2 linked regions of the Homo sapiens genome follow. Each later gene encodes a partner of the first gene's protein in a complex. Each region holds a gene or a part of one and is shown in the gene's direction. Other genes may lie near its edges. The genes, in order: IQSEC2 and ARF1.

The links.
Region 2: the proteins of IQSEC2 (region 1) and ARF1 are in contact, whole or in part, in a crystal structure (PDB 6FAE), measured with the Homo sapiens proteins. Residues at the interface, in NP_001104595.1 of Homo sapiens: Arg810, Gln811, Gln841 (codon at 200), Arg845 (codon at 212), Val846 (codon at 215), Gln847 (codon at 218), Gly848 (codon at 221), Glu849 (codon at 224), Ala850 (codon at 227), Gln851 (codon at 230), Val853 (codon at 236), Glu854 (codon at 239), Glu858 (codon at 251), Asp879 (codon at 1,292), Phe882 (codon at 1,301), Ile883 (codon at 1,304), Phe886 (codon at 1,313), Ala887 (codon at 1,316), Ile889 (codon at 1,322), Leu890 (codon at 1,325), Asn892 (codon at 1,331), Thr893 (codon at 1,334), Asp894 (codon at 1,337), Tyr896 (codon at 1,343), Ser897 (codon at 1,346), Pro898 (codon at 1,349), Ser899 (codon at 1,352), Val900 (codon at 1,355), Arg904 (codon at 1,367), Met906 (codon at 1,373); in NP_001019397.1 of Homo sapiens: Arg19, Gly24, Leu25, Asp26, Ala27, Lys30, Thr31, Ile46, Pro47, Thr48, Ile49, Gly50, Phe51, Asn52, Val53, Glu54, Thr55, Thr64, Trp66, Asp67, Val68, Gly69, Gly70, Gln71, Lys73, Ile74, Pro76, Leu77, Trp78, His80.

Annotation. Positions count from the first base shown.
Region 1 is NC_000023.11:53,244,470-53,248,374, reverse strand, and holds part of IQSEC2 (IQ motif and SEC7 domain-containing protein 2), read left to right. Parts: intron 1-138; coding exon 139-261; intron 262-1,239; coding exon 1,240-1,406; intron 1,407-3,905. UniProt on the Homo sapiens protein: Is a guanine nucleotide exchange factor for the ARF GTP-binding proteins.
Region 2 is NC_000001.11:228,081,073-228,084,977, forward strand, and holds the start of ARF1 (ADP-ribosylation factor 1), read left to right. Parts: upstream 1-1,635; 5' UTR 1,636-1,693; exon of another isoform or gene 1,694-1,778; intron 1,779-2,061; exon of another isoform or gene 2,062-2,302; intron 2,303-3,905. UniProt on the Homo sapiens protein: Small GTPase involved in protein trafficking between different compartments. Modulates vesicle budding and uncoating within the Golgi complex. In its GTP-bound form, triggers the recruitment of coatomer proteins to the Golgi membrane.

The DNA of each region.
Region 1 (3,905 bases):
TGTGTACTTGCTCGGGCCACAGGTCCTGAATTTGAGAGTCTATCAGTGGGGGTGTTGGTCCATTTGAGCAGGTCCAGGTGGGTCAGAGGTTTTCTGCAGAGGAATTGAAAGCGCCACACCTCCTTCTTTGCTCCTTAGCTGTGTGGTGGATGAGATGGACTTCTCCTCCATGGATCTGGATGATGCGCTCCGGAAGTTCCAGTCCCATATCCGGGTTCAGGGTGAGGCCCAGAAAGTGGAGCGACTCATCGAAGCCTTCAGGTGTGCCTACCTCCCACTCGCGAAGCTGCCCCTCCCTCCTGTGGGCATCGACGTAGTATGTGTTTATAAGTCACTTCTCTGAGCCTCATACTTTCTTCACCATAAAACAGAGATGATAAATCCTATCTTGCAAGGCAATTGTGAGGATCAGAGGTAGTGCATATAAAGTATCTAGCTCAGCCTCTGGGACATGGGCATTCGATAAGTGACAACAACATCAGCAATAACAGCTAACATTCACGGAGCACTTACTAGGTATCAGGTGCAGAGCTGAGCACTTTACATGATTATTTCACCGAATAATCACAACCACCCCATAAAGTAGGCACTTCTGTTATTATTCCCATTTTACAGATGAGAAATCAGAAGTTTAGAGAGGTTAAGTAACTTGCCCAGGCTCATACAGTGAATAAGTGGTAGAAACAGGATTTGAACTCGTATGTGTCTGAGTCCATGATCCATCCATGCCCTTAACCATTTTACTGTACTATAAATGCTTTGGAGATCAGATAGACTGGGGTCTAAATCCTGGCTCTGCCACTTTAGGGTATTTAGAAGAGAAACAGGAGTTGCTGAGAACTTGTTTCCCACAATGGGGGAAGGATTTGCTTTGCAGTCAGAAATAACTGGGTTTTCATCCTGGCTTCACCATTTACCAGCTCTATTACCTTGGGCAAGTTACCTCGCCACTTTGAGTCTTAGTCACTTCATCTGTAAAATGGGACTGCCAATAGCTACCTTGCAGGATTATGATAGGATTACGTGAAACAACGTACATAAATCCCCTGGAAGAGCTCTGTAAAAGGTAGCGATTGTGATTTTTACATGCTGGTCTAGGGGAAGCTCTGAAGAGGACAGACCCAGAGATCAAGAAAGTATTTCTTGCAGGAAAGGGTTGCTGGTGCCAGACTGGGTGGATGGTGGGTAGGCAGAGATGGCTGGTTCCTGAGTCTGGCTTTGACCCCTCCTGCCCTGCAGCCAGCGGTACTGTGTCTGTAACCCAGCCCTCGTGCGCCAGTTCCGGAACCCAGACACCATCTTCATCCTTGCTTTTGCCATCATCCTCCTCAATACCGACATGTACAGTCCCAGCGTCAAAGCTGAACGAAAGATGAAACTAGATGACTTCATCAAGAACCTGAGAGGTGACTTCCCTGTCAGCTTTTCCTGCCCTTCACCTGGAAAGGGAAAGTGGGGGGTAAGGGGAAGGATGCAGGAGATCCCATCTGTTCCTTGGAAATTAATTTGTGATGCTGTCACTTTCTGCCCTAGCTGGATGTTCCCAGGATATTCACTTATTAATTCACTCAAATCGTCATTTGCCCATTGTACTGAGCTTCTACTGTGTACCAGGTTTCTAGGTCCTGGGGTTCAAGCAGTGAACATGATAGATTAAAGTCCTGACTCTTACAAGGCTTTACTCTGATTCATTCATTCATTCATTCAGTAATTCACTTGTCCTTTCCTCGCTCCTTCTTTCCCTCTCTTATTTATGCCCATGAGGACTCATTTAATTATTTTAGGTACCTTTTCCTCTATTCATGCATTCATTTATCACTCGACCAAACAACCAGCCAGCCAGTCAACACTTAGCGCTTAGTGTGTGCCAAGCCCCATGATGGGTGCCAAGGACAATGGAGGGGAATCTGCCATACTCCCTGTTCTGAGAGAGCTCCCTGTGTGTGGGAGAGGCTGACTTGTAGCACCCAGATAACTAACATAAGACAGAAAGTGAACAGTGACATCAGAGAGGCCAAAAGTGCAGTCAGAGCTCAAAGGAGGGAGAGCCCACCTCTAGCTAGCTTCCTGGAGGAGGTAGTATTTTTATTTTAAGGTGGGTCTTGAAGGCATGGAGAAGGTGACACAATAGAGATAGAGGAGGGCTTACCTAGCAATGAGAATACCAAAGGCGCAGAGGCAGGAACATTTATTTTCTTTAGGGAACAATTGAGGGCTGGGTACGTTGGCTCACACCTGTAATCCCAGCACTTTGTGAGGCTGAGGCAGGTGGATCCCATGAGGCCAGGAGTTCCAGACCAGCCTGGCCAACATGGGGAAACCCCATCTCTACTAAAAATACAAAAATTAGCAGGCATGGTGGTGCACACCTGTAATCCCAGCCACTCAGGAGGCTGAGGCAGGAGAATTACTTGAACCTGGGAGGTAGAGGTTGCAGTGAGCTAAGATCGCACCACTGCACTCCAGCCTGAGTGACAGAGCAAGACTCTGTCTTGAAAAAAAAAAAAAAAAAAAAAGAACAATTGAGATGAGGTCATTGATGGGTTGGGAAGGTCCCAATATATGAGGTTCCAATATATGGAACCAATATATGAGGGCCTTGAATGCCAGATGAAAGGTGTCACCTTGCTCTTTTTGCTTATTCTACTGATGTCGAGCCCTGCCTATCACCAAAGAGCAGCTACTAAAAATGGTACAGATGTTAAGATTATTTAAGCAGAAAAGAAAGAGGGAAATAGAGTCAAAGAAAAAAAGCAAACTGAACACAAGACAAATTGGCTGCCCATCAGGTTTGTGCCGCTGTGGCTGCTCTGGTAAGAAAGTCAGTGCGATGTAGTATGTTCCTTTAGCACCTGTCCAAGGAGGAGATGTGACATTTCCAAGGAAGAAAACATTTTTTTTGTTTTCTGTTTTTTTATTTTATTTGTTTTTTTTTTTTTTATTTTTAGAGACAGGGTCTCACTCTCTCACCCAGGCTGGATTGCAGTGGTGCTAGCAGAGCTCACTGCAGCCTTGAACTCCTGGGCTCAAGCGATCCTCCCACCTCAGCCTCCTAAGTAGCTGGGACTATAGGCGCGTGCCACCATGCCCAACTAATTTCTAAATTTTTTGTAGAGACAGGGTCTTGCTAGGTTGCCCAGGCTGGTCTCAAACTCCTTGCCTCAACTCGGCCTCCCAAAGTGCTGGGATTACAGGTGTGAGCCTCCACGTCCTGCCCAGAAAACATTTTCTCTAGTAGAGGATTTAGAGAGAAGAGTGAGTGGGTTTCACTCAGCAATCAGAAGTGGAGAAGGATGGTGAACATGGGAGGAGGGAGTTAGATCAGAGGCCATTTGGAGCTGTCTCCTAGAATTTTGCCATCATTCATTCATCCATTCTTTTTCCCTCTCTCTCTCAATATATGTGTGTGTGTGTGTGGGTGTGTGTGTGTGTATGTGTAACTTCCCCCTCTAATTATTAAATAAATAAGCAAATAAATGAAGGTAATACATACTTTATTTCAGAAATGTTGGAAGATTCAGAAAATTAGAAAATTTCTTTTTATCACCCAAAATGTGCCCCCTAGAGGCAATCATAGTTAATGTTTTGGTGCGTTCTAATCTTTTCCCCCATGCATATGTAACTTTTTATATAGTTCAGATCATACCACACATGCAATTTATCTTACTCTTTTCCCATAATTTGCTACTGTAATTTTCTCATGCTATTGAAATGTTTTTGTAAATGTCAAGTTTTTAATAGCTGTGCATTATCTTATTAAATGGATATACTATCCTCTATTGTTAAAATTTAGGTTGTTTCAAATTGTCCCCATAAGTAACACTTAGTGAGTTTTTTTTTTTTTTTTTTGAGACAGGGTCTTGCTCTGTTGCCTAGGCTGGAGTGCAGTGGTGCAATCATGGTTC
Region 2 (3,905 bases), on another chromosome or scaffold:
GCTTGAACCCGGGAGGCGGAGATTGCAGTGAGCCAAGATTGTGTCACTGCACTCCAGTATGGGCGACAGAGCAAGACTCCATCTCAAAAATAAATAAATAAATAAAAAGTATTTTAAAGGAAGGGGAGGCAGGCTCTGGTTCCCACACAATCCCCGCTCAGTGACCCTGGAGCCACCCCTGGCCACGCTCTGCCAGCAGAGAACCAAAGCCAGGTCCCTTCAGCCCTAAAGAGGCCATAACCACATGTAACCCCCGTGAAATGTCCGCACATGGCCCCGCTCTGGCTGAGCAGGGAGAGGCAGCACAACCAGAAGGTTCCACAGGCATCCACAACCCTCCCTGGGGCTTTCCAAGAGTATCTGAGATGCCTGTAGGGTGGGAGACGTCCTTCCCCTAAACAGACAACCCTGCCACAGCTTCACAGAGGTGAGATTTCGGAAGGGAGCCCCAGGCAGAAAAAGGGACTAAATTTGGGGGCAGGAGGGTCACCGCTTTTGGGGACCTTCGTAGCCCCCGCAGGTGCAGCCCTGGGGGAGAGATCTGCCCATCGCAGCCTCCAGAGGCAGTGAGGACGCCCTGCCCAAGGGGCAAGCAACGTAGGTGATGGGGGCAGCAAAGGGGCGCAGGAGGCCTGGGCCAGGCCCAGTGATCCCACCCCTCAGGCCCTGCCCCCGGGCCTCGGCCTGCACAAATCAGGTTGATTCCCGACCTCCACAATACCCAGGGCACTGTGCTGCAGGGACACTTTCCCACAAGCCCAACCCCTCACAGCAGCACAAGGGAAGAGGCAAGAAGACCTGAGGGTGGTGGGCAGAGCCAGGCCTCCAGCACACGGAACACAGAGGGACTGCAACGGTCCTCTGTTCAGGTGCCTGAGAGCGGGATCTCCTCCGCCTCAACTGGATCTCAGCTTAAAGGCCAGCTCATTAGAGACCACTGTGACCTCCCTTCTGGGCGGCCGTCCCCAACCCTGGGCCCCACCCCCACGGCCCCCGCCTCACCCCGGGGTCCCCAGGCCACCTCCTCCTTTGCTTCATCTGCGGCCAGCTCCCCGGCGTCTGCTCCGGGCCCAGGTATGAGCCCGCGCGTCACTGCGGCCGCCGGGGCGCCGAGGCCAGTGCGGGGACACAGCAAGCCTCCCGCCTTCGGACCTTCCGCCGTGGCCCCGCGAGTGCCACAGGTTTCCACAGGGCCGGGGCACGTGGACCCGCGCAGCCTGGGAGCCAGGAACCCCAACCCCGGCGAGGGGCGCCTCGCACCCCCGTCCTCACGCAGTCCCCGAGGCCTCCCGGTGACTGCCGGGTGTGGGAGGAGGAAGGTGGCAACCAGCCCCGCAGCTCCAGTTGCTGCAGGAGCCCCCCGGGCCTCAGTCTCCAAATACGCCAAACGGGCGGGAGTGAGCCACAGGCTGTCTTCGCGGAAGACTCACAGGCGCAGGCGCAGACGGGTGCGCGCCCCTAGGGTGCGCGCGAGCTAAGACCGCGGCCCGGGGCAGGGTGTCCCCGGCCCCGCCCCCTGCAGCCCTACCGGAGCCAGCGCGCCTGCGTCGCGGGCGCACGGTGGGCGGAGTTCCCGGCGTCTCCGCCCCTTACCCGGCGTGCCCCGCGCCCGGAGGCGCTGACGTGGCCGCCGTCAGAGCCGCCATCTTGTGGGAGCAAAACCAACGCCTGGCTCGGAGCAGCAGCCTCTGAGGTGAGGGCGAGGGGCGCGGGCCGGTGTGGGCCGCAGAGACGTTGGAGCCGGCGGGGGCTGGGGACTGGCCTCGGGGCGACTTGAGGTTCGCGAAGGGCACGTCGACCCCCGCGGCGGCGGCGGCGACAGGGCCGGGCCGGGGGCGGACGCAGACGGGCCGGGCTGAGGCTGGGGCCCGGCCGGAGTCGGGGCTGGGCGGACGGGCGGGTCGGTGAGCTCCTCGCACCCCTCACAGGTTCCCGAAGTCGCTCGCGGCCGCTTGTCCTCCTCTGCCTGTCCCTGCCCCCGCCCGTCGCCCGGAAGTCCGCTTGGACGCCGGGCTCTTCTCCAGGAAACCTGGGCTTCCTGCTTCCCTCGCCTCTGCCTTTCTCGTTTCCCGAGGCCGCCCGCGCGTGGACGGTTGGGATTAGCGGCCGCGGGGGCCGGTGGGGGTCGTGGGGCCTCCCCCACCCGAGTACAGGCGAGCGAGCGGCATCCGGGCGGACCCCCGCCTCGGGGACCGGGAAACTGAGGCTCGGGCGGCCTGAGACGCCGTCAAGGTCATGTAGGTGGTGGGGGCTTGCATCTTCGCCTCCCGACTCCATCCAGTTCGTGTTTGCTGTGAAGACGGTACCGGGTCAGGGGTGGTGAGAGCGGGCGGGCAGGTGGACAGGAACCCCGTGCCCTTCCCTGTCTGCTGAACGGAATGCGTGGACCTCCGGGGGAGCCCAGAGTGCCTCCCTTCACACCAGTGAGACGCAATTTGGGGTCAGCACTCAGGGCACCGGTGGCCTCCAGAGGGCCGGTCGATCTTCGCTTTAACTCCAGGGTGGTTTCCTTGACGTTGTCGGCAGTAGATAAGAAGGCCTCTTCTGAGCTGGTGAATCTTTAACCTACCTGAATCTTTAACCTGCCTGCGGAACGACCTGCTCGCAGACTCTAGGCCGCAGAGGCCGGCCCCAGCGCTCTCTCGGAGCACAGCCTGGGTGGTTACGGCGTGTGAGATTGGGGCTGGACAGCCGTGCGCACCTAGAGTGTTAAATAACCATTCCGACGGCACCTCCTGGCACTCCCTTTCAGTCCAGGCAGCCAGTTGCTGCTTTGCAGGAATTGAGCAGAAATGCACTCGGAATCGCGGGCAGGAAAAGAAGGGAGGTCGGAGGCTTTGGATGGTCCCCGAAGTCGCCGCCTAGTTGAGAGCTGTAGAGTTGGTGCCACTGCCCCTGTTGGAGTGGGCAGTTGTAGTTCTTGTTTCAGAACTAGTGGTCAGCAGTTTTCTTTGCCGGCTGTTGCAAGGCTGGTGGTTCTGGCGTTTTCCGCAGTGTGTTGGGAGGAGTGTGAGATGCCGCGGTGCAGTTGTGTGCGGCCCCTGTGGCCCTCTGCTGTTGCGTTAGCCATTGTCTAACACGTGTGACCGCATGGATGGTGTCCTCATTTAATTTGAATTTTCACCAGCACTGCCTAGGTAGCCAGAACCATAAGGTCCTGAAATGCCGTACTATTAGCTGGGTCCAAAATTGAGAAGAATTGAGTAGTGTAAATGTTAGTCACACATCTCATTGGACACATTGTTAGAGTGTGTTGTCCATGTTTTCACATGTTGGTAGACTGGAGAATAGCTGTCACTTGTCTTCAGGCGTATCTTGTTGAAAATAAATCCAAATCACTGCAGCAGTAGGAATATGCTGTTGCCTGTGAGGCAGATTTTCGGATTTGCTAGTTGAAAAAGATTTGAAACAGTTGGTTTGGACAACAGCTGAGTCACACAATGACTGTGAGTGAAAAGCAAAAACTGGTTCTGTGCCCCTCACAGTTCTGGTTTTGTACATCATGTGGTCTAGCTATGGGCTGTACCTCTTGCACAATATGGAGAGGACATTCAGACATCTTCAACTGCTCATCTGCCCCTACGGACCAGACAGGCTTGAAACTATAGGAAGATGCATTTGACCTTTCATTTTTCAGTTCAGTAGAATTTAATATGGACTGTCAGCCGCTGCGGTGATCATGGAAGTAGACCTAAGAGAAAAAAACTTGTGCAAGTTCACACGTGGAGTAGTATATGACCATGGTTTCAGAGAACTGAAGCAGTTCTTTTTAGATTCTTCAAATTAAATGTCTCCTTGGTGTATTTAAACCTGCTGTTACTCACAGGCCAGGCTCCACCAAGCTTTCCTACACACTTCTTCCTGAGCTGTGACCATTCTCCTGAGCAAGAGGCTGCAGCCAGCCT